Homo sapiens: one gene and its partners. The protein of the gene in region 1 purifies or fractionates together with the protein of each later gene. This does not show direct contact. Each region holds a gene or a part of one and is shown on either strand. Other genes may lie near its edges. The genes, in order: ITFG1, LMAN2L, RFC3, NIPSNAP1, AIFM1, HNRNPR and PCMT1.

The links.
Region 2: the proteins of ITFG1 (region 1) and LMAN2L purify together in Homo sapiens (affinity purification with mass spectrometry; 2 studies listed by BioGRID and IntAct, with this or other methods). This does not show direct contact.
Region 3: the proteins of ITFG1 (region 1) and RFC3 purify together in Homo sapiens (affinity purification with mass spectrometry, with the first as the bait; one large-scale study listed by BioGRID). This does not show direct contact.
Region 4: the proteins of ITFG1 (region 1) and NIPSNAP1 purify together in Homo sapiens (affinity purification with mass spectrometry, with the first as the bait; one large-scale study listed by BioGRID). This does not show direct contact.
Region 5: the proteins of ITFG1 (region 1) and AIFM1 purify together in Homo sapiens (affinity purification with mass spectrometry, with the first as the bait; one large-scale study listed by BioGRID). This does not show direct contact.
Region 6: the proteins of ITFG1 (region 1) and HNRNPR purify together in Homo sapiens (affinity purification with mass spectrometry, with the first as the bait; one large-scale study listed by BioGRID). This does not show direct contact.
Region 7: the proteins of ITFG1 (region 1) and PCMT1 purify together in Homo sapiens (affinity purification with mass spectrometry, with the first as the bait; one large-scale study listed by BioGRID). This does not show direct contact.

What each region holds. Positions count from the first base shown.
Region 1 is NC_000016.10:47,157,064-47,160,563, forward strand, and holds part of ITFG1 (T-cell immunomodulatory protein isoform 1 precursor), read right to left. Parts: intron 1,928-3,500; coding exon 1,810-1,927; intron 542-1,809; exon of another isoform or gene 492-541; intron 1-491. UniProt on the Homo sapiens protein: Modulator of T-cell function. Has a protective effect in graft versus host disease model.
Region 2 is NC_000002.12:96,705,429-96,709,064, reverse strand, and holds the end of LMAN2L (VIP36-like protein isoform 2 precursor), read left to right. Parts: intron 1-1,231; coding exon 1,232-1,351; intron 1,352-1,666; coding exon 1,667-1,809; 3' UTR 1,810-3,136; downstream 3,137-3,636. UniProt on the Homo sapiens protein: May be involved in the regulation of export from the endoplasmic reticulum of a subset of glycoproteins. May function as a regulator of ERGIC-53.
Region 3 is NC_000013.11:33,831,649-33,835,148, reverse strand, and holds part of RFC3 (replication factor C subunit 3), read right to left. Parts: intron 2-3,500; coding exon 1-1. UniProt on the Homo sapiens protein: Subunit of the replication factor C (RFC) complex which acts during elongation of primed DNA templates by DNA polymerases delta and epsilon, and is necessary for ATP-dependent loading of proliferating cell nuclear antigen (PCNA) onto primed DNA.
Region 4 is NC_000022.11:29,564,114-29,567,613, reverse strand, and holds part of NIPSNAP1 (protein NipSnap homolog 1), read left to right. Parts: intron 1-3,500.
Region 5 is NC_000023.11:130,131,852-130,134,841, reverse strand, and holds part of AIFM1 (apoptosis-inducing factor 1, mitochondrial isoform AIF precursor), read left to right. Parts: intron 1-1,386; coding exon 1,387-1,529; intron 1,530-2,990. UniProt on the Homo sapiens protein: Functions both as NADH oxidoreductase and as regulator of apoptosis.
Region 6 is NC_000001.11:23,313,285-23,316,784, reverse strand, and holds part of HNRNPR (heterogeneous nuclear ribonucleoprotein R), read left to right. Parts: intron 1-3,082; coding exon 3,083-3,232; intron 3,233-3,500. UniProt on the Homo sapiens protein: Component of ribonucleosomes, which are complexes of at least 20 other different heterogeneous nuclear ribonucleoproteins (hnRNP). hnRNP play an important role in processing of precursor mRNA in the nucleus.
Region 7 is NC_000006.12:149,791,241-149,794,740, forward strand, and holds part of PCMT1 (protein-L-isoaspartate(D-aspartate) O-methyltransferase), read left to right. Parts: intron 1-2,308; coding exon 2,309-2,429; intron 2,430-3,500. UniProt on the Homo sapiens protein: Initiates the repair of damaged proteins by catalyzing methyl esterification of L-isoaspartyl and D-aspartyl residues produced by spontaneous isomerization and racemization of L-aspartyl and L-asparaginyl residues in aging peptides and proteins.

The DNA of each region.
Region 1 (3,500 bases):
AGAACTTCTTACAGAGGCAGAGTCCATAGGCAAGTGATGAAATCTTGTAGGTTAAGTAAGAGAGATGAAGCTTTAGAATGCTGGTTTTGAGGTGCTGTAAGTCATCTAGGTTGAGCTATCATGGTGACAGTTGGAAATGGGGAAGGACCTTTAGAGATGAGAGCTGGGGATATCTGAAGCCATGATTTTAGATGAAATTGGCAGGGAAAGTGTTGAAAGAAGAGGGCCAGGGGCAGACACTGGGGAAAGCCTGCATTGAGAAAATGGTAGAAGGAGCCAGCCTGCTTAAGTAAAAAAGTGGTTAAAGAGGTTCTACCTCTTTGAGATACCACAGTGCCACAGGAGATACAGTATATATATAGTCAAATATATACTTGTACTTAAAACTTTCATTTTTGGCCACTGCATAATTATTGTTATAAGCACGCAATGTTTATGCTGTAATCAGATCTACTGAGGAATTAATGAAATTCATTTCCTTTGCTTCACAGGTCAAGAACTGTGGAATCTTTCAGATGATATTCTGATACTTCTGGACCAAGTATGTATGGTTGTCCTTGATCTTACTCTTAAGTTGCAATCTTAAGGTTAATTGAATATGTAACTTCATGTTACTGTTTTTGATATGTAAAGGAGTGATTTTTTAAAAGTGACAAGCCTATGAGCATTTATAGAACAACTAATATGTTCTTTTTCATATGTTAAAAGAACAAACACGGTAATTCTAGCAAAAAATGATTATGATGGCATGTCAATCCAGAGTGTAGGTGCAAAAAAAGAAAAACACCTTTCTTTGGGGCCACAAAGCAGCCCTTTTTTGAGGGCATTGATTGGAACCCATATATAAATAGAAACTAGCTTTTTCACATATATCTAAACTGCTAATTTACAGTGATAGCCTCTTTTTTCTTTGCATAAAAATCTTTTACATATTTGGGAGTTTTGTTTTCAATTATTATTTAGAGTATTATACTAAAGAACAGAAATCAGTTTAATGCAAAGAATACTTGATAGATGAAAAAGATGTTTATGGCTTTTTTCTTTTTTTGAGACAGGGTCTCACTCCTTTTGCCCAGGCTGGAGTGAAGTGGTACAATCGCAGCTCACTGTACCCTCAACTTTCTGGGCTCAGGTGATTCTCCGACCTCAGCCTCCTGAGTAGCTGAGATTACAGGCTTGCATCATGGTGCCTGGCTAATTTTTGTGTATTCTGTAGAGACGGGGTTTCATCATGTTGCCCAGGATGGTCTCAAACTCCTGAGCTCCAGCAATCTGTCCACCTTGGCCTCCCAAAGTGCTGGGATTACAGGCATGAGCCACCATGCCTGGCTGTTTATTGCTTCAGTTGTTACCTTCCACCTAAACCTCAAGAAAATAATTTAACCTCTTTTCACTCTAATTCTTTTCAAAGAGATAGCTGATAATCCTAGCCAAAGAATGTCCATGGCTTTATCAGTACATACTGAACACACGTTCATTTTTTAAAATCATTATTATTTTTCAGGTCATTATGAAATTGTTTCTAAATGCCTTTTGATTTCCGGTTGATCACTTTATTACTACCGTACTGCATCAAACTTTTAAAGTAGACATCTCTTGTGATTTGTATGAATTGATAGGAGACATTAGTAACTTCCAGGGATAAAAGAAATTATCATCAATAAAATGATGCTTTGAACAGAACTTGAAAAATGATGAAATTCTAGTCATATGAAAAAAGTTTAAAATAAATATAGTGTTTTTAAAGAGCAATGTATGTATTACTAGAATAAATTAACCAAAATTAATGCTTCCTTTAAATGAACAAACCTTTTCCTGCCAATGTAAAATGCCAATTATTGCCAAGATGAAAACACAGACACCGATGAGAGCTATAGCAGTAAGCAGAACAATATTACTTGGTGTAAGATACAGTTTGGCACTCCAACTGTAGATAAAAACAGAACAAATTAAAATTACAAATTTTATTTAAAAATAACAAAGTTATATTGAGACCCCAAAGCAAAATAGCTTATTAATTAAACAGTCAATGTATTCATTAAACCATTCATTCATCAGTCCATTCATTATAAATAAAACAAAAACAATTAAAAATCAGATAGTGCTGAGAATATTGATGATTCTGCAGTTTATATTTTACCTAGACAACTGAAATAGAATTTTTGATGAGATATTTCAATATTTTTCATTTTCCAAGTTTGATCCTATGAGAATTATTTTTAGGTAAACATATCCAAGGGTACTTTGGATAATCATAGACATCTTTTTTACATCTTGATTTACCTGCTTAATTTGAAAACCTGAACTCTAAAGCAAGGTAGTCACATGATCCTAGAAGCCTTCTGTATCATCTTATTTTTGACCTGTGTCACATATATAATGTGACCAAGTAAAACATAAATGTTGATGGCTTGTGCAAAACTTCTATAATTTTTATATCATGTTGGAGTGTTTACATTACTACAATGACTTTTAGGTTCAGATCACTTACAAAATCATCTTTAGTCCCTCACTGTTAATGGCAATATACAGACTAGAGGTCTTTAGTAAACAGAACTAGTTCTTTCCTTCTAAAACAGTCCATGTAATATAGCATTTGCACACCCTGAAAGCCTAAAACTAAGGACTGTATCACCAAGTGTGAAGGTTGTTATATACACATAACTTTTTGTTCTTCCTAGAAATAGGTAATGGCTATATTTTTATTTTAAAAGTTTAATAAAGGTAAGACTGTTCTGGTAAATAGCAAGTAGCTATTGATTTATTCTGGGATAATTAAAATTTATTGATCCATAAGTTAGCTTCTAGTCAATAACCTCAAAATACACCTCAAAAACTAAAATCAATTTGGTTTTTATTATGTACATAAATTTGAAAAGAACATTTCTTTGGAAAGAGTAAGAGAAACATGAAAAATGTTGAGATTACGGAAAAAAGCTATGGTATAATTTTCTGGAAATTCAGAAGAGTAAGTAAACCTTAAGAAAACAAATACTGTTAATTAGTTGAAAGCTACTCTTAGTGTTATACTCATACTTAAGAAAACAGTTCTTTTATGAGATGTTTTTGGTAGTTCTACTTTTAAAATAGATTTTTAACAAATCAGGAATGTAAGTGTTTTGGTAAAAAAAAAAAAAAAAAAAGACAAAAGTCAATCCTCAGTTTTCTCCTCAGAGGCAGTCACTCTTACCAGTTTCCTGCATATCCTTTCAGAGATATTTTATACATGTATGAACATGTATGTATAGATGGCTTCTTTTTAAATCACAATGGCTGCTTATTATACATACTCTTCTACATTTTGCTGTTGCTTCTTTTGTTTGTTGTTGTTGTTATTGTTTTTTGCTTACCACTCCATCTTAAGAGACTGTTCTATGTCCGTGGCAGTGAAAAAAAATCATGCTACTGAGCTGTATAGAAGTACCGTACTTTATATAGTTTCCTACTCATGGTCCAGATTTTCTAGTTTTACTGTAAATTTCATCTATAGAAAACTAACA
Region 2 (3,636 bases), on another chromosome or scaffold:
TGCATGCCTGTAATCCCAGCTACTTGGGAGGCTGAGGCAGGGGAATTGCTTGAACCTGGGAGGCAGAGGTTGCAGTGAGCCGAGATCGTGCCATTGCACTCCAGCCTGGGCAACAAGAGCAAAACTCTGTCTCAAAAAAAAAAAAAAAAAAAAAAAGTCTAACTTCAGTGCATTGCAACACATCAGATATGGTTAAATGTAGGAGTTTATAATGATACTTTAAAGAGAGAAATCTAGTCCCTAATTGCTTGATCTTCTCTCTGGTAATTATTAGGGAGATTAAGAGTCACAAGTACAAGAAGCCACAGAGAAACAGGCATAGTCTAGAAGGGCAGTGTATCCCATGCCCATAGCTGTGCCCTGCCCATGGCCCATTAAACAGCGGCCATGAGACCTTTTCCTGTTGTACGTGTGTGTGTGTGCACGTGTGTGGTCTTCACCAGCGGGGAAGCTGCAGTCCTACTTTGTCTGTTCTTACTGTGCTGGAAGGTTTAACATATGGGATTTAATTGTGGTTTTATCTCCAAATTTTTTAATTATACAGATGCGTCTTGACATACAATGGCGTTATGTCCCAATAAACTCATTGTAGGTTGTAGATATTGTAAGTTGAAAATGCATTCAATACACCTACCCTACTGAACATCATAGCTTAGCCTAGTCTACCTTAAATGTGCTTAGAACATTTACATTAGCCTACAGTTGGGCAAAATCATCTAACACAAAGCCTATTCTGTAACAAAGTGTTGAATGTCTGATGTAACGTATGGAATACAGTACACGATGCAGTACTGGTTGTTTACCCTTGTGATTGTGTGGCTCACTGGGAGCTACAGCTCACTGCTGCTGCCCAGCCTCAGTACAGAGTGTTGTACTACACATCGCTAGCCTGGGAAAAGATCAAAACTCAAATTTTGAAGTATGGTTTCTGCTAAGCGCAGATTACTTTCACACCATCATAAAGTTGGAAAATTGTAAGTCGAACCATTTTAAGTCAGCGATCTTCTATACAGGTAATGCATGCTTGTTGATAAAAACTTAAATACAGAAGATATAGAATATGCCTTGTTCCCCATCCTTATTTTTAGTTGCAAAATGGAGAGGTTTCAATTATTTTTTCAAGGTCACTGCTGGTTAGCTGTGGATCAGAGGCTTGAACTAAGATACTGACTTCAAGAAACATACCTCTTTTTCAAGTGGCACAAGTCATCCTTCTTCCATTTTTCTTCAGATAATCATGATGTCATTTCCTTGAAGTTGTTTGAACTGACAGTGGAGAGAACCCCAGAAGAGGAAAAGCTCCATCGAGATGTGTTCTTGCCCTCAGTGGACAATATGAAGCTGCCTGAGAGTGAGCACAGGGGCCCGCGGGAAATGGTCCCATAGTTGGGGAGGAGCTTGCAGTGCTGTACCCATAGCTCACAGGGCGGTCTCTGCTCTGTGTTCTTCTTCTGAAGGGTAGGGAGCACTTTCATCTGCCTTTCCCCTTCAAGTTACAGATGAGCAGCAGGAGGGCCGCTTTGTTTCTCAGTTGGAAAGAGGGGGTCTAAGCTCTGGCTTCCCAGAAGTAGGTGTCAGAAACTGGGGGCCGGACAGCCTATAGTTTGATCCTTCCCTATTGGGTGGGCTCCCTGTTTTCTGACTTGCTTCTCTCTTGCTTCCTCAGTGACAGCTCCACTGCCGCCCCTGAGTGGCCTGGCCCTCTTCCTCATCGTCTTTTTCTCCCTGGTGTTTTCTGTATTTGCCATAGTCATTGGTATCATACTCTACAACAAATGGCAGGAACAGAGCCGAAAGCGCTTCTACTGAGCCCTCCTGCTGCCACCACTTTTGTGACTGTCACCCATGAGGTATGGAAGGAGCAGGCACTGGCCTGAGCATGCAGCCTGGAGAGTGTTCTTGTCTCTAGCAGCTGGTTGGGGACTATATTCTGTCACTGGAGTTTTGAATGCAGGGACCCCGCATTCCCATGGTTGTGCATGGGGACATCTAACTCTGGTCTGGGAAGCCACCCACCCCAGGGCAATGCTGCTGTGATGTGCCTTTCCCTGCAGTCCTTCCATGTGGGAGCAGAGGTGTGAAGAGAATTTACGTGGTTGTGATGCCAAAATCACAGAACAGAATTTCATAGCCCAGGCTGCCGTGTTGTTTGACTCAGAAGGCCCTTCTACTTCAGTTTTGAATCCACAAAGAATTAAAAACTGGTAACACCACAGGCTTTCTGACCATCCATTCGTTGGGTTTTGCATTTGACCCAACCCTCTGCCTACCTGAGGAGCTTTCTTTGGAAACCAGGATGGAAACTTCTTCCCTGCCTTACCTTCCTTTCACTCCATTCATTGTCCTCTCTGTGTGCAACCTGAGCTGGGAAAGGCATTTGGATGCCTCTCTGTTGGGGCCTGGGGCTGCAGAACACACCTGCGTTTCACTGGCCTTCATTAGGTGGCCCTAGGGAGATGGCTTTCTGCTTTGGATCACTGTTCCCTAGCATGGGTCTTGGGTCTATTGGCATGTCCATGGCCTTCCCAATCAAGTCTCTTCAGGCCCTCAGTGAAGTTTGGCTAAAGGTTGGTGTAAAAATCAAGAGAAGCCTGGAAGACATCATGGATGCCATGGATTAGCTGTGCAACTGACCAGCTCCAGGTTTGATCAAACCAAAAGCAACATTTGTCATGTGGTCTGACCATGTGGAGATGTTTCTGGACTTGCTAGAGCCTGCTTAGCTGCATGTTTTGTAGTTACGATTTTTGGAATCCCACTTTGAGTGCTGAAAGTGTAAGGAAGCTTTCTTCTTACACCTTGGGCTTGGATATTGCCCAGAGAAGAAATTTGGCTTTTTTTTTCTTAATGGACAAGAGACAGTTGCTGTTCTCATGTTCCAAGTCTGAGAGCAACAGACCCTCATCATCTGTGCCTGGAAGAGTTCACTGTCATTGAGCAGCACAGCCTGAGTGCTGGCCTCTGTCAACCCTTATTCCACTGCCTTATTTGACAAGGGGTTACATGCTGCTCACCTTACTGCCCTGGGATTAAATCAGTTACAGGCCAGAGTCTCCTTGGAGGGCCTGGAACTCTGAGTCCTCCTATGAACCTCTGTAGCCTAAATGAAATTCTTAAAATCACCGATGGAACCAAACATGAGCTTCTGACTGTGTTCTTTCTTCTAGGAGTGGGTTTGGGGAAAGTTCAGGCCTTTATTCTGAGCAGGCCTTTTTTTTGAGCTTCAAGCCCATCAACCGTTGTTTTGCCTTCTCCTGGGTTGGAAAAGCCCTCAGCTCAGCTCAGAAGGAAAGGGGGTCACCTTGGCTAGGCAGAGGTCTCTGTCTCTTCAGGCTTTCTTTCCTTCCCATGCACTTAAACAGCACAGGCTATAGTGCTCTCCTGCAGGTGGGATTCAGGTGGAGGCATCTTCCTCCCACCTCCCCTCCACAATAGTAGAATGGCTCCAGGGTGCCAGAGGACAAACTGACCTAGAGCTTGGCCTTGGAGCAGGGAGAACTGAAAAAGAAAATGGTGGTTTTGTCTTTTTTGAGTTGAAGGGGAGATTGTATGGACCCGTGGGAGGACCTAGGTGGGCTCTTGAGATGGCCAAGGCAGCAGTGCAGGTGGAAGGGGTCTCATCAGAGGGGAGGGGCA
Region 3 (3,500 bases), on another chromosome or scaffold:
CCTACATAAAACAAAATAATTGGTATTTTGTGAAGAAAATAAGAGGTAATTTTTCCAAATTCCCACTGTATGGTTTTACTTTATGAATTAACAAACAATCCAATACAGAATTAACAACTTTATGACCTAACTTTATGAATTAACAAACAATCCAGTAAGAAATAATAACTGTTTCTTAAATAGTTTACCATACTTAGGATAAACATATGGAGGCTTCTCCTAACTTCAGTTCATTTTTGAAACAGAACATTTTCAGAACTCTTTTAAAATGAGACGTCTATATTCAGGGTTCCTAATTATATCAAAACACCATGAAAATACCAGATAGAAATTGAGACTTCATGAAGAGCGCGGGTTGAGCTTATTCACACCATGGAATTTAACAAACTTTAATGACATGTCAAGTAATATGTTTTTCTTTTCTCCAGACAGATACCTGAAACATCCAGGAAATGGTCATGAAAAGATTAAAAAGTCAATTACATAGGTGACACAAGATAATATACGCATGAAATATAATACAATGCCACTGCCTAGATTGCACAGTAAAAAAGCAATGTGGCAGGGATACAGAGCTGTCCCTGTCATAAAAGGGGCGGCACAAAGGTTTACAGGTAAGCACGCAACCAGGCTAAGCGAATAGGAACATTCAAACCTCTGAGTCCTTCATTCTAGGCCCTTCTCATATTCTAGGGAGAGAAAGGGGAAGAGGAGGGAAATGTACATATGACGTTTTAAAACAGAAAAAAAAAAAAAAGAGAGAAAGTTCCAAATACACATTCTTAAAGGGAAAAACTTCTGAATTTTTACAGTACAGATATATATATATATATATATATATATATATATACACACAGTACAGATGTTCCATACTTCAGATAAATCCAGGTAGTGATTTATAAGAATTCTTAAAAAGCAGAAGTCAATCCTAAGACGTCAGGAATATGAAGCCCTGGCACATTAAATCTTAAAAAAAGTGGGGGAAAAAAAAAAAGAACTAGCATTTCTGGGGCATCTGCTATGTGTAAGAATTGAAACAAATAATTTAACTCAGTACTTACACTAGCCCATTTATTTCAGATGAAAAAACTAAGGCCCAGATGGTTTAAGTAACTGACAGAACTGACCACAGCAAAGCATGATTTAACACAGATCTATCTTTCTTACTCCAAAGTCCACACCCTTTCCAATGTCTGTGAAAGTATTTAACACCTTAATTCTGTACTAGGTTCGCTGCAATACACTATTAATTCCCCACAACAATGATGCTCTTTTACTGAAACAAACCTGAAGTTCAGACAGGTCAGGCTTCCATCAAGACTTGTGTATTTGAGCCAGCATTTGAATTCAGGCCTGACTCAAAAGCCTGTGATTTCTCTGACATCCCAAGAATAAAACTTGATTATTAAAGCATGAATAATAAAAATAATTTCATATGGTATGAAATTATTTTAATATATGTATATAGCTTACTTCTGAAAAGTTGATTCAGGATGTAGTTACCTATACAATTGAAGTAACTATACTGTGTGTAGTGCATACATGTTAACATGCATCTTGTGTTAGTCTTGAGTTAACTTCTAACATTACTGTTTTACAAAATTAACATATTCTACATTTACCATGTCTGTGTCATTATTTCCTAATAGCTTACAAGTGATTAAGAGTACAAACTCTTCTGTCAGAGAAACATGGGTATCCTAGAACTGTCTCTATTATAATAATGGAATGTACCTGAACAAGGTACCTAATCTCCATAAATGTCAGGGTTTTTTTTTTAATCTAAAAAGTTAATATTTTTCTCATAGGTGTGTTATATCAATTAAATAACACGGTGTAAGAGCTGACATAATCATTCATGAAATATTCGCTGCTATTCAAATTAGAAAATTATGACTGTTCTAAGACAGATCAAATGAAAAATCGAGACCACAAATATTCCAGCAAGACAAAGGAGTCAGAAATCAGAAGTAATCATTTGGAATTGTGTAGCCCAGTGATCAGAAAGATACCAGACTTCCAGGATTTCTGGCCAGCCCCAAGGCTTTCTGGAATTGAGCAAAATTTCTTTTTATGTAGCACAATGGAATCAATTCCTACAATTGTTGGTTTAAACAGGAAACAGGAGCACCGCTTCCTGCACAAGTTCATTTATAAGCCGTCAAAATGTGTTAGGAAAACCAGAAGAAATTTGTAACAGCAGCTAGAAGAATTAAGCAAAGGAATAATCAAGTAGTTTTATAAAAGCACGTGATAATTATCAAACATTACAACCTCAAGTACCTAAATCCCCTAAAAGTAGGTAAGTTATATTGCTATCAATTTTTCTTCTTTAATATCAGAACAAAAACAAGAAAGTCATCTTCAGTGTAGAAATATTTTATAAAAGTAAAAGGCACCTAAGACATGCTTTATTTGAATTTTATCTCTTTAAAGGGTGAGGTCTCTTTATTGATAATCAACATTTTACAAAATAAAATGAACATATTTTTCCTAAAGATGAAGTTTCTTTTCTAATGAGACTACTTATAACATTTGGTACTTCTTGGAGAAAACTATCGATTTCTTCAACTAAAATAATTGAATTCTGAGAATTCAAAGCAAACCTTAAATGAAATACTAAGTACCCACTATGTATGATCCACTATCCACCTCCACCAATCTATATGGTAACCAGGGAATACATGTTACAATACCTTTGAAGAATTTCTTAAAAAATTAGAATTCATCAGATGTATCAACAAAAGGAGAAACATGGCATATTCCTCTATTATTTTCATTAGACCAAGGAAGAGTAAGCTCTATTGGCTGCAGTCTATTCAGTCTATAGACTGAACTCAGTTTATTCTGAACCCTAAAATGATCAACTACCCTCTGTAAGGTCCAAAGATCATTTCTCAGTTCAGAAACCCAACAAGGATATGAGACTGTGCTTTAGCCAAGTCTGAGGAACCTTCTTCATACTCTCCAAAGTTAGTGGGCCTTAACATTGTCATTTTTTATTTGGAGGAAAGCAAACTGTGTTTCTCAATCGAAGCTGCCATAAGTCAAACAACTAGCAGCTGAGGTATTTTCAGAATGGTCAACCTACAAATAATAGACCTACAGAAGTAACGGAAGCAATTTTGAGCAAATGTGTCAAAAAATACTTCCTGAGTAAAAATGGTATATACACAATGCTATCCTTAGTAGAACGCATGGTCATCTATAAGCACAGGGTTTTTTAGTTTTCAAACCATTAATAACTCTTTTGCTCTTCACAACAAATGCAAAAGTACCCTTGGTGAGGCAATAATAATATCTTCAATATACAAATGAAGATAAAACTCTAAAATGAAGTTACCTGATCAAGAACACTTAGCTAGGAGTTCAGGACAAGAACTAGAAGTCTGACTTATAGTCTGGTGTCTTTCTAGCACATGATGCATCATTGATTACAAAGTTTTACATTGTCCTTTACTAGAAAGCTACGCACATTATCTCTAGCTTTGTGTTGTATG
Region 4 (3,500 bases), on another chromosome or scaffold:
CCCAAAGTGCTGGGAGTACAGGCATGAGCCACAGTGCCTGGACTATTCACTTTTCTATTTTGGCATAGATGTCACCTCCTCCTGGAAGGCTGCCGAGATTTCCTCCACGCGGGCTGGGTCAGGCACCTTCCTTAGCTCTCCAGGCCTCAGTAATTACCTCCTCACGCCCTGATCATGTACCCCTATAGCTGCCTGTTTAGTTGTCTGTCTCCATATATGGGTGAATCCCCAATATGCAGCACATATTTGTGGAATAAATAGGAGTTCTTCTTGTCTGAGCTGGTGTCTTACAGTCCCAGGGGCACCCCTAGCATGCCCCATCCCAGCCTAATAGACACATCAAAGTTGGCACCAGCTATAAGAACCCACACATGAATTTGGCTGACTCACAGCATCTCAGCCACTCAAAGGGACCTCAAATTCAGACCCACACTGTCCAAAATGATAGCCACTAACCACATGTAGTTATTTATTTATTTATTTTTTTGAGATGGAGCCTCGCTCTGTACTGTCACCCAGGCTGGGGTACAGTGGTGCAATCTTGGCTCACTGCAACCTCTGCCTCCTGGGTTCAAGTGATTCTCCTGCCTCAGCCTCCTGAGTAGCTGAGGTTACAGGCGTGTGCCACCACACTTGGCTAATTTTTGTATTTTTAGTAGAAACAGGGTTTCACCATGTTGGTCAGGCTGGTCTTGAACTCCTGACCTCATGATCCTCCCGCCTGAGCCTCCCAAAGTGTTGGGATTACAGGCATCAGCCACTGCGCCTGGCCTATTTATTTATTTTTTTGAGACAGCGTCTCACTCTGGTTTCCCAGGCTGGACTGCAGTGGTGCAATCACAGCTCACTGCACCCTTGACCTCCCGGGCTCAGATGATTCTCTCACCTCAGCCTCCCAAGTAGCTGGAACTACAGGTGTGCACCACCACAGCCAGCTAATTTTTTATATTTTTAGTAGAGACAGGGTTTCGCTATGTTGCCCAGGCTGGTCTTGAACTCCTGGACTCAAGCAATCCGTCAGCCTTGGCCTCCTGGACTACTGAGATTACAGGTGTGAGCCACTGCGCCCTGGCCTCACATGTAGCTATTGAAATTTATATTAGTTAAAATTACATAAAATTTAAAGTTCAAGCTGTGTGCCAAGGTGCTCACCTGTAGTCCTAGCTACTTGGGAGGCTGAGTTGGGAGGACTGCTTGAGCCCAGGAGTTCGAGGCCGTGATTGAATACCATCACACCTATGAATAGCCACTGCACTCCAGCCTGGGCAACACAGTGAGGACCCTGTCTCTAAAAAAGAAAAAATTCAGGACTGAATATGGTGGCTTATGCTTATAATCCCAGCAGATTAGGAGGCTGAGGTGGGAGGAACACTTGAGGCCAGGAGTTTGAAACCAGCCTGGGCAACATAGTGAGACTTTGCTTCTATAAAGAAAATACATATTAAAAAAAAAAGAAGAAAAGATTTTAAAAAGAAAAAATTCAGTTTCTTAGTCATACTAGCTACATTTCAAATGCTCACTCATATACACACAGGCTCATGCAGAAAGTACTTTTGGACAGTACTGGTTTAGAGTGTCTGCATAGCACAGCCATAACAGATGGTCCTCTAAACTTCCCTTGAACACTCCTAGCCATGAAGAGTTCACTTGTAAGCCAATCTATTTCATCCTTTGACAGCCCTGATAATCGTGTCTTTGAAAATAATCTGTGACCTGCAGATAGATAGGTGTATCTCCTTAATCAATTATTTGGTTTCCGTAACAGACATTAACATATTATTTATGTTTTATTTTTATTATTTCCATTTAGAAACAGGGTCTCACTATATTGCCCAGGCTGGAGTTGAATTTCTGGGCTCGGGCAATCCTCCTGAGTAGCTGGGACTACAGGCGTGTGCCATCATACCTGGCTAGACACTGATATGTGGCTAAGGGAATAAGAGAAAAGCAAATTGCCTTCAGTTTCAGCCACTACAGCTTTCCCATTTTAAGCTTGACTTGATCAGCTCCAGCAGTATTCCTTGAATTCTCTTAAGCATTTGCTAGTTGTGAAATGAACTCTGAGGGATGGGATCCTGACTTTTTCTTTTTTTTCTTTTTCGAGACCGAGTCTCACTCTGTTGCCCAGGCTGGAGTGCAGTGGCGTGATCTCAGCTCACTGCAACCTCTGCCTCCCGGATTCAAGCAAGTTCTCTTGCCTCAGGCTCCCGAGTAGCTGGGACTACAAGTATGAACCACCATGCCTGGCTAATTTTTGTATTTTTAGTAGAGATGGAGTTTCACCATCTTGGCCAGGCTGGTCTCGAACTCCTGACCACAGTTGATCCACCTGCCTCGGCCTCCCAAAGTGCTGGGATTAAAGGCGTGAGCCACTGCCCCTGGCCTTTTTCTTCTTTTTATTTTTCTGTTTGGGACAGGGTCTCGCTCTGTCACCCAGTTTGGAGTGCAGTGGCATGATCATAGTTCACTGTAACCTTGAACTCCTAGGCTCAGGCGATCCTCTCACCTCAACTTCTCGAGTAGCTGGGACCACAGACATGCACCACCATGCCTGGGCTAGTTGTTTTGTTTTGTTTGTTTGTTTGTTTTGTAGAGATGAGGTCTTGCTATGTTGCCCAGGCTGATCTCAGACTCCTGAGCTCAAGTGCTCCTCTCCTGCCTCAGCCTCCCAGAGTGTTGGGATTACAGGCCTGAGCCACTGCGCCTGGCTGATCCTGACTTTTTAAAGCATACCCTACATTTTTTGTACCTTGAAGTTCAGTCCCTCACATAGTCAGCTGAATCATGTTGAGCTGTACGCTGGGAGTAGGGTTCAAGAATCTACATTTTAATAAACTTGTAAGAACCATTGATCCATCTCCTATGGAGAGCACCACAGTTGTTAGACAATTCCTTCTTCTTGGCTGGGCGCGGTGGCTCATGCCTGTATCCCAGCACTTTGGGAGGCTGAGGCAGGTGCATCACCTGAGGTCAGGAGTTCAAGACCAGCCTGGCTAACAAGGTGAAACCCTGTCTCTACTAAAAATACAAAAATTAGCTGGGCGTGGTGGCATGCGCCTGTAATCCCAGCTACTTGGGAGGCATAGGCAGGACAGTCTCTTAAATCCAGGAGGTGGATGTTGCAGTGAGCTGAGATCACGCCACCGCACTCCAGCCTGGGTGACAGAAAAATAAAGAAAATTCCTTCCTCTTGCCAATGATGCTGTCCTTGTAACTTTTCTCCGTTAATCCGTTTTCCACAGGTCATTCCTGGTTTTGGTAGATTTCTATCCATACAGTACTTTTGCCATTTCCTTTGGGAAAAAGACCTTTAAACCATAGGGTCAGGCCATTTTGCAGATGGGAAAATCAAGGCACAGATGGAGTCAAAAAACAGGTGAAGGTCAGGCTGGGGATGGGGATGGGAAGTTACAGAGTCTGAGTTTCTAGACTGCTGGCAGCCAGCTGCCCTTAGCTCTAGCTTGCCTGTGTGATCCCCTGGGGACCTTCCTCCGCTGATG
Region 5 (2,990 bases), on another chromosome or scaffold:
TATATTCCATTAAGCGAATTTCACAGTTTACGGTTGCTCACTCGTTGGATTTTTAGGTTGCTTTGGGGGAGTCTAAATAGCCACAAAGATGAACAAAGGGTTAGAGAGCTCAAATGCCACATCCTTCATGAAGCTGGTCCAGTTCACCCCCGGCTGGAGGTTCTCGCCCTCTGCTTGAAATACTTGACTCCTTTAATCTGTACCTCTCATATGGCACACTACTGTTTACATTGCTCTGTAGTTGTGAGCAAGGCTGTATCTTTCTGTACTAGGTTGTATGCTCCTCATAGTCAAGGTCCATGTCAGTTTTGTCTCAGCAACCCGGACAACATAATACTTTTGTATATAATAAGTACTCCATAAATATTTGTCGAATGAATGAATACTGAGTGACAAAAAGAAATCTAAGAAAACATTTCTAGGTGAGAGGCAGTCACATCCAAAAACTGGTTTCTACATATAGAAAAGAATATTCTGCAAATCATGGTTATTAAATATCCTGTCTGTTAAGGAAAGAACAGGAAGTAGACATAAGTAAACAAAACTATAGAAGATTTAGGTTAGCTTTATGGAAGCAGAATAGATTTTTTTTTCTTTTTTTTTTTGAGGCGGTGTCTCGCTCTGTTTCCCAGTCTGGAGTTCAGTGGCACGATCTCAGCTCACTGCAACCTCCGCCTCCTGGGTTCAAGCCATTCTCCTGTCTCAGCCTCCCAAGTAGCTGGGATTACAGGCGCTTGCCACCACACACGCCTAATTTTTTGTATTTTTAGTAGAGATGGGGTTTCACCATATTGGCCAGGCTTGTCTCGAACTCCTTGTGATCCACCCACCTTGGTCTCCCAAAGTGCTGGGATTACGGGCATTTGCCACTGCACCTGGCCTGGAATAGATGTTTTAAAATGAGATCTCAGGCCAGGCGTGGTGACTCATGCCTGTAATCCCAGCACTTTGGAAGGCTGAGGCAGGCACATTGCTTGAGCCCAGGAGTTCAAAACCAGCCTGCGCAACATGGCAACACCCCATCTCTACCAAAAAAAAAAAAAAAATTTAGCCAGGCATGGTGGTGCATTCCTGTAGTCCCAGCTACTTGGGAGGCTGAGGCGGGAGGATCATCTGAGCCTGGAGGTCCAGGCTGTGGTGAGCCATGATCGCACCACTGCACTCCAGCCCAGGCAATAGAGTGAGACCCTGTCTAAAAGAAAAAAAAAAAATTTAAATGGGTTATCAGCTGTTTTTGTTAGTTTAAGTACAACTCTGGCCTGTAGATGGAAAACATGAATTAGTTACCATTACAAGTGTTCTTTGAGCCCCCAAAGTTTATATTTTGTCTTTAACTTGCTTTTTTTTTTTTTATCATGTGTTCATGTTATGTATTTGTTTCCACAGGCAGGAGATGCTGCATGCTTCTACGATATAAAGTTGGGAAGGAGGCGGGTAGAGCACCATGATCACGCTGTTGTGAGTGGAAGATTGGCTGGAGAAAATATGACTGGAGCTGCTAAGCCGTACTGGCATCAGTCAATGTTCTGGTAATAGTGGTGTGCCTTGGAGACCCAACTGATTACAACTCAGTATCTCTAGGACCATAACACAGAGTTATGGTTTGGTTTTATTATGAGCCAGTTAGCTTCATACAGAAGGGAAAAAAGTCCATCTTATGTCCACACATTCTACCCTCAGGTAGCCATCTGGCAGAAGTGTCCTGTTTAGTTTTTCACCAAACTGATCCTTTTGTAAAACATTAAAAGAGAAAAAAATTATTTTAAGTGTTCTGTCTGGCGTATGTTAGACTAGGTGAATGAATGGAGATGGCACCAGCACTTCCGGCAAAATAGGTCAGAGGCCGAGGTGGGCGGATCACGAGGCCAGGAGTTTGAGACCAGCCTGACCAACATGGTGAAACCCCGTCTCTACTAAAAATACAAAAATTAGCTGGACGTGGTGGTGCATGCCTGTAATCCCAGCTACTCGGTAGGCTGAGGCAGGAGAATTGCTTGGACCCAGGAGGTGGAGGTTGCAGTGAGCCGAGATCACACCACTGCACTCCGGCCTGGGTGACAGAGCGAGACTCCGTCTCAAAAAAAAAAAAAAAAAAAAAAGGAGTGTCAGAAAGCATTCCAGTCCTAAAAGATGAAGGCTGGTCTGGTATGGTTGCTCATGCCTCTAATCCCAGCACTTTGGGAGGCCAAGGCCGGGGGATTGCTTGAGCCCAGAAGTTCGAGACCAACCTGGACAACATAGCAAGAGCTCGTCTGAATTTTTTAAATAAAAAGTTTTTAAAAGTTAAAAAAAAGAAAAGTGGAGGCTAAGGGGAAATACTGTAGGTTAATGAAGCCATAAAACATCTCAAATTCTGAATTCCATAAATGTGGAACACTCTTTAAAGCTTCAAAAAGGGAATTTCAAGACAAAAGTAGTGAATAGCAAAAGTGGGAACCTCATCACTTTCCAAATGTGGCATGGGATAAAAGCACGAATAAATTCAAGAACGTTTCAATCACCGCATGGATATGTGGTCGTGTATAATGGCTTTTTAAGGAAAAGTCAAAGCTATTAGGGTTAATCTTACTTTCTCATGGTCATCCCTAGATGCTCTAGCAACAGCAGATCAGTTGGCATCTCTCGTGATCTGCATACTAAGTTCTTTGGTTGGCATAAGAGTGCGGTGTTGGTCGGGTGCGGTGGCTCACATCTGTAATCCCTGCACTTTGGGAGGCCAAGGCGGGCAGATTACTTGAGGTCAGGAGTTCAAGACCAGCCTGGCCAACATGGTAAAACCCCGTCTCTACTAAAAATACAAAAATTAGCCAGGGTGGTAGTGGGTGCCTGTAATCCCAGCTACTCAGGAGGCTGAGGCTGGAGAATCACTTGAACCCAGGAGGGAGAGGTTGCAATGAACTGAGTTCGCACCCATTGCACTCCAGCCTGGGCAACGAGTGAAACTCCGTCTCAAAAAAAAAAAAATGCAGTGTCATGGAGAATATGTGCTA
Region 6 (3,500 bases), on another chromosome or scaffold:
TGATTTTAATTCCTATTGTTTCTTCTCCTAATACAACTATGACTTTGGGTAAACTACTGAACATGAATGTCATCTATTTTATTGAGCCTGGATCAATCTCTAAGATCCACCACAACTTTGAATCTACCTGTAGTAACTAAGTATAGCCTGTATTACTTTTTCTGTAAAAATATTTTAAAATAGTATTATAGATGTATTATAATAGAGGAATAAAATATTATAAAAGAGGAATAAAATCCCATGAAAACCAAAAGTATAGCTTGTAATTTGCTTACCAGCCACTTCTCACATAACCTTTAGTAACTGCTCAGATGGAAGTTCATCCTAATCTTTTTTTAGGGTTAGAAAACTTCAAGATTTCATTCTGGTAACTCCTTTTTCCTAGATCTAAAACAGGTTTCAGAATGAAAAGGAGGTCTCTATAAACTTAGGATTAAATATTATGGAGCCCTTTATTGTTTCTTTTTTTTAAAAGATGGGGTCTCATGTTGCCCAGGCTGGAGTGCAGTAGCTGCCCACATGTGCAGTCATAGCACACTGCAGCCTTGAACTCCTGGGCTTAAGCGTCCCTCCTGCTTCAGCCTCCCGGGTGCTTGCAACCCCATCCAGCTCCTTTATTGTTTCCTAATTGAAAAGAAAAGTTTATCCATTTGAGTAAAGCTTCTGTTATTCACACTATCAATTTACAATTCACTGAAGATTTTTTTTGCCAAGTTGGGTCAGTTTTACAATGTACCATAACCTAAAAGCCTAAATATATGTCTCTTAAAGGGACCCTTTTTCCTGTTGAACATTTTAAACACAATTTCAGTAAGTAATTTTCACATAGTATGTTATCGTTTCATCATAGAAAAGTCCATGTTGAATTTTTTTTAAAAAGCAACTAAACCAGTGGGAGTCTGTGTAACATAGAGGCTGGACCTTAGTATGACAAATTGAGAATAATAAAGGGGATGGAGCGTTTGTGGAAAATGTTAGTTTTTTTCCTCCTTAAATTAGTATCTTCTTATTAGATAGCCCTTTATCTGAAGCAACAATTTGTTCAATATGTTAGTTTTTTATTTGGATAGGTACTATGTTTTCTTAGTTCAAAAGTTATATAGAAAAGTATAGACAAAGAAATTTCCTTTCTACCCCTATCCCTGTGTCTACCAAATCCCCTTTGTCTCCTATAAGGCATCCAGTTTTAATAGTTGCTGGTTTCCTTTTAGTATTTCCTTCGGCAAATATGGATATACTTCCTTAATTCTTAGATGAGTGGTAGTAATGTTGGTAGCCTACCATATCCACTGATCTACCTTTTGTTTATTCACCATCCTGTTTCATCAGCTCTGAGGAAATACATCATTACTATATGTACTACTAAATAGTTAAAAAACACTGCCAACTAAACTATGGCACAGTACTTGCTTATCACATTGACTGTAAGTTGTCCTATCCTACAACTCATAGAGCTCCTCTTCATTTTTTGGGTTTTTGTTTTTTTTTTTTTTTTTTTTTTTTTTGAGACGGAGCCTTGCTCTGTCACCCAGGCTGGAGTGCAGTGGTGTAATCTTGGCTCACTGCAGCCTCTGCCTCCCGGGTTCAAGTGATTCTCCTGCCTCAGCTTCCCGAGTAGCTGGGGTTATAGGTGCCTCCTACCACGCCCGGCTAATTTTTGTATTTTTAGTAGAGACAGGGTTTCACCATGCTGGCCAGGCTGGTCTTGAACTCCCAACCTCAGGTGATCTGCCCACCTCGGCCTCCCAAAGTGCTGGGATTACAGGCGTGAGCCACCGCGCCCAGCCCTCTTCTTCATTTTTTATGACTACATAGTAGTCTATTCTGTGGAGGTACTATAGTGTATTTAACCAGCTGGATATTGTTTCTAATCTTTTGCTCTTACAGTGCTGGAAGGAATAAGCTTATGTTAGTTGATACAAGTGGAGATATATCTGTAGGATAGATTCTTAGGGGTAGAATTGTGGGCCAAAGGGTAGATATATCTGTAATTGTTAAGATACTGCCATATTCCTTTCTGTAGGAGATACACTATTTTACATTCCTACCAGCAAAATACAAGAGAATTATTTTCCTCATTCTTGACAAAATAGTGTATAATCAAACTTTTGAATTTTGCCAGCCTGATAACAAATGTCTCAGTGCCATTAATGATTAATGATTTGCTTCTCTTACTATGAATGGTTTGAACTTTAAATATATTTTAAGAGCCATATGTGTTTCTGTGTATGAACCATGTATTCAGGAATTTTGCCTATTTTTCTATTCAGTTGTTGAGCTTTTTGTTATTTTCTGGTGCTCTGATATAAAAGAGAGATTAGCTGTTTGTGATACATGTTGCAAATTTTTCATCCATATTTATTGTCTTTGCTTATAGTATTTTTTTGCCATATAGAAGTCATTTATTTTTAGTAGTTGAGTATAACATTCTTATGGCTCCTAGATTTTAAGTCATAAGGTCATCCCCACTCCAGTGTTATATAAAGGAATCATTCTTGTTCTAAAATTTCACAGTCCTCCCTCCACCCTTTTATTATTTAAATTTTCAATCTATTTGGAGTTTATCCTTGTGTATAGTGTAAGGCATGGACCAGCTTTTCTCCTTTTTTTCTAATTTAACACTACCTGATTTAATGATTTAAGCATTATAGTTTGTTTATATTTGGTAGGGCCAGCCTCTAAATTTCACTCTTTTTTTTCCTGGTTATTCTTGCTTATTTATTTTTTCATATGAACTTTTGAAAGTTACTCAGTTTTAGAGGAAAGAAACAGAAAAACTTGTTTTGAAAGGGACTTTTTGTTGATTAACTTGGTAATAATAATTATGTGTTGGTTCCTTGAAGGTTCTACTCAGTGTTAGGTGCTTTAATGACAACATAGGAGAAGGCAGGAACCAATAATTTTTGTAAATTGGTGACTGATATCAGTGTCATTTTCCTAGCAATTTCTCTTACTACCTGTAACAACACTTTTAGCACTTAATGTTTTAGAGGAGAAAAGCTATGCTATGAAGACAGGAAGAAACACTTTTCAGGTAAAATTAAGTAGCCAATGACGGTTTTGTTTATTTGTTGCTTACTAGGTAAAAGTTTTGTTTGTGAGAAACTTGGCTACTACGGTGACAGAAGAAATATTGGAAAAGTCATTTTCTGAATTTGGAAAACTCGAAAGAGTAAAGAAGTTGAAAGATTATGCATTTGTTCATTTTGAAGACAGAGGAGCAGCTGTTAAGGTAGGAATTTTGAAATTTTGGTTCTTGATATTTGAATTTTGTTTTTGAAACTTGCCAAACACAAAGTAACTTTAAAAACTGAAACAATATTGGTTGTCAGCTTTTGCTGAACTCTTTCTATTTAATCTCTGTAAAGTGGTAATAGTATGTAACAGATAAGACTCCATATTTCAAAGCCAGGTTATTACTGAGTTTGTGATCTTAGGCAAGTTATTTTTAATCTCTGTATTGTTTTGTAAGATTCGATAGCATGATGCCTTGGAAGTAT
Region 7 (3,500 bases), on another chromosome or scaffold:
AGAATGAGCCTGGTTTCTAAACATTCCTGCAGATTTACCAGGATGAAGGTAAAACTTCTGCATTAGAAAAAGTGCTCTTAGAAAAATAATGCCTTGTTATACTTCTGCCTTTTCTCATCAGAGTCTTATCTGGTCAATGGCTATCCAGAGTATTAACTGGGGACCCACTAATATATGTTGGAGTAAAGGTTGATCATTGCTTAGATCATCACATCAGTTTGATTTGAGAAATATCGTGCCTGGAGGACAGATTGGAATATTCTGATCTAGTTAAATTGGGAGTTGTGGATCCACCTTGGACTAGAATCCATGTAACTTGCTATAAATGTATAATCAGCAGACTTACTAGAATGTAAGCTCCAGGGAGTTGGAAATTTTGTCTGCTCTTTTTTATCATGATGGTATCCTAAACATCTAAAACAATGCCTGGCACATAATAAGGACTCATATTTTCTCAGATGTTTTGCTCATTTTGTAGAGGTTAAGTCCTCATTAATGGATATCAGTGATTTTTTTTAAGGTTAGAAATGCCATTTAATAAATGACTCATTCTCTATACTTGACATGTTTATAGTTTTAGAGGATGTATTCATTTTAAAAAATCATTTGGTTTCTGAGTTGTTTTTCATAAAATGGCATTAATGTTTTTCACACATTTACCATGTGTGAAAGTACTTTGTGTTTTAAGCACTAGAGCCTGTGTTCTAAGTGCTACCCCATTTTTATGATGGGGTTTATGCCTTTTTCCTCCCCATTTTGTACTGAGGAACCTGATTCATACAAGGAATGATAGGCCGGGTGTGGTGGCTCACGCCTGTAATCCCAGCACTTTGGGAGGCCGAGGCAGGTGGATCACCTGAGGTCTGGAGTTCGAGACCAGCCTGGCCAACATGGTGAAACCCCGTCTCCACTAAAAATACAAAAATTAGCTGGGTGTGGTGGCACACGCCTGTAATCCCAGCTATTTGGGAGGCTGAGGCAGGAGAATTGCTTGAGCCCGGGAGACAGAGGTTGCAGTGAGCTGAGATCACGCCACTGTACTCCAGCCTGGCCAACAAAGCGAGACTTTATCTCAAAAAAAAAAGAAGGAACGGTTAACTTGCCAAGGTATGTATGTATGTAAGTGATGACACTTAGACAAGAACCCAGATAGTTTGACTTCAAAGCCTTTATGTGTTAATTTTTTAAATTTTTATATTTTTTCTTGAAACATTTATACTTAATATTTTAATTTACAAATAAATATGCAAAGAAGGGATTTTTGTTGTTGTTGCTTTTTGTTTGTTTTCTGAGACAGGGTCTCAGTCTGTCATCCAGGCTGGAGTGCAGTGGCACGATCTCAACTCACTGCAGCCTCTGCCTCCCAGGCTCAAGTGATCCTCACACCACATCAGCCTCCTAAGTAGCTGGGACTTAGGAGGCACATGCTACCACACCTGGCTAGTTTTTGTATTCTTTTGTAGAGATGGGGTTTTGCCATGTTGCTCAGGCTGGTCTCAAACTCCTGGGCTCAAGCAGTCTACCTGCCTCTGCCTCCCAAAGTGCTGGGATTATAGGTGTGAGCCACTGTATATATTTTCATGTTTTCTACTAAAAGCAGTAGAAACAAGTGTAGAAATTCCTTCCCATCAGGCGGGAGGCAGGGTGTGTGGTGGCTCAGTCCTGTAATCCCAGCACTCTGGGAGGCCAAGGCGGGCAGATCACGAGGTCAGGAATTTGAGACCAGCCTGACCAACGTGGTGAAACCCTGTCTCTACTAAAAATACAAAAAAATTAGCTGGGCATGGTGGCGGGGGCCTGTAGTCCCAGCTACTCAGGAGGCTGAGGCAGGAGAATTGCTTGAACCTGGGAGGCAGAGGTTGCAGTGAGCTGAGATCGTGCCACTGTACTCCAGCCTGGGTGACAGAGCGAGACTCTCTCTCAAAAAAAAAAAAAAAGAAATTCCTCCCTGTCAAATTCTTTATGTAACATTTTAATATTTAAAGTTATACTTTAGATGGAATTTAAATAAAAAATTATTGTACTACTATTAAATATTGGTAATTTTCTTCAAAGTTCTAGATTTAATCTAAGAAAGATATAATTTTTCTTAGTATTACAAGTTTTATTCAATGAGAGTGATAGTTGAGAAAGTTGTATATATGGTAAATAATTTATGATAAACTGAGTGTTTAGCAATCTATAGAAGCCTTAAGCTATTTTTGTTTTCTCTTTGTAGAATATGACTTTCGATAAGGAAAAACTTCAATAATACTTTAGAAAAACAAATTTAGCCCAATGAGCTACTGAATTGTTTTCTCTTTTCCAGGTTGGATGTACTGGAAAAGTCATAGGAATTGATCACATTAAAGAGCTAGTAGATGACTCAGTAAATAATGTCAGGAAGGACGATCCAACACTTCTGTCTTCAGGGAGAGTACAGCTTGTTGGTAAGTATCAGAAAACTTTAAAAATTTCTTCAGAGGATTTTTATTTTCAGAAGATCCAATGCAAGCTAAATAATACTCAGAGGTAATTATTGTATTTTTTTTTACAATCACTTTTAAGTACTAAAAAATAAAAACGATTATTTTTGCTCACCTAGTGTGTATTTTGCAGCCATCTCTTTGTGAGTTTAATTTTGTATTTTCCTATTAACCTCTGAGATTGAATTTTTTGTAATGTGTCTGACCATTAGGATTTTGTCTTTTGTGAAGTACCTGTTCAGATATTGGATTGCTTGTATTTTTGACTTACAGGGCTTCTAGCCCTTTGTCTATATATATAAATACATTTCTTCTCCCATCTGAGGTGTGCCTTTTCATCTTATTGGTACCCTTTTGATAATAGAAATTCTTAATTTTAATGTAGTCAGACTTACCAATTTTTTTCAGTGCTTTCTGTGTCCTTTTTAAGGATACTCTGAGACCATGAAGATATGTCTCTTATTATTTCTTAGAACCTTTATCATTTTTAGCTTTTCATGTTTAGGTTTTTGATCTTCCTGATGTTGGTTTTTGTGTATGTGTGAGGTAAAGGTGCAGTTATATGTTTTTGTGTATGAATATCCAGTTGTATTCCCCAGACACACTCAGTTTTGTTTAAAAGATAAAATATTGGCCAGGAGCGGTGGCTCACACCTGTAATCCCAGCACTTTGGGAGGCTGAGGTGGGCAGATCATGAGGTCAAGAGTTTGAGACCAGCCTGACCAACATGGTGAAACTCCGTCTCTACTAAAAATACAAAAATAAGCTGGGCGTGGTGGCGCACGCCTGTAGTCCTAGCTACTCGGGAGGCTGAGGCAGGAGAATCGCTTGAACCCGAGAGGTGGAGGTTGCAGTAAGCTGAGATCGCACCACTGAACTACAGTCTGGCGACAGAGCTAGAGTCCGTCTCAAAAAAACAAATAAAATAAAATAAAGGCCCGGGCAGCTCTAGTAGCCACAGCCATCCCCTAGAGGGATCTGGCTGAGGAGGAAGTGGAGGTGTTGCTTGCCTTGGCCTTTGCCCTGATCCTGTG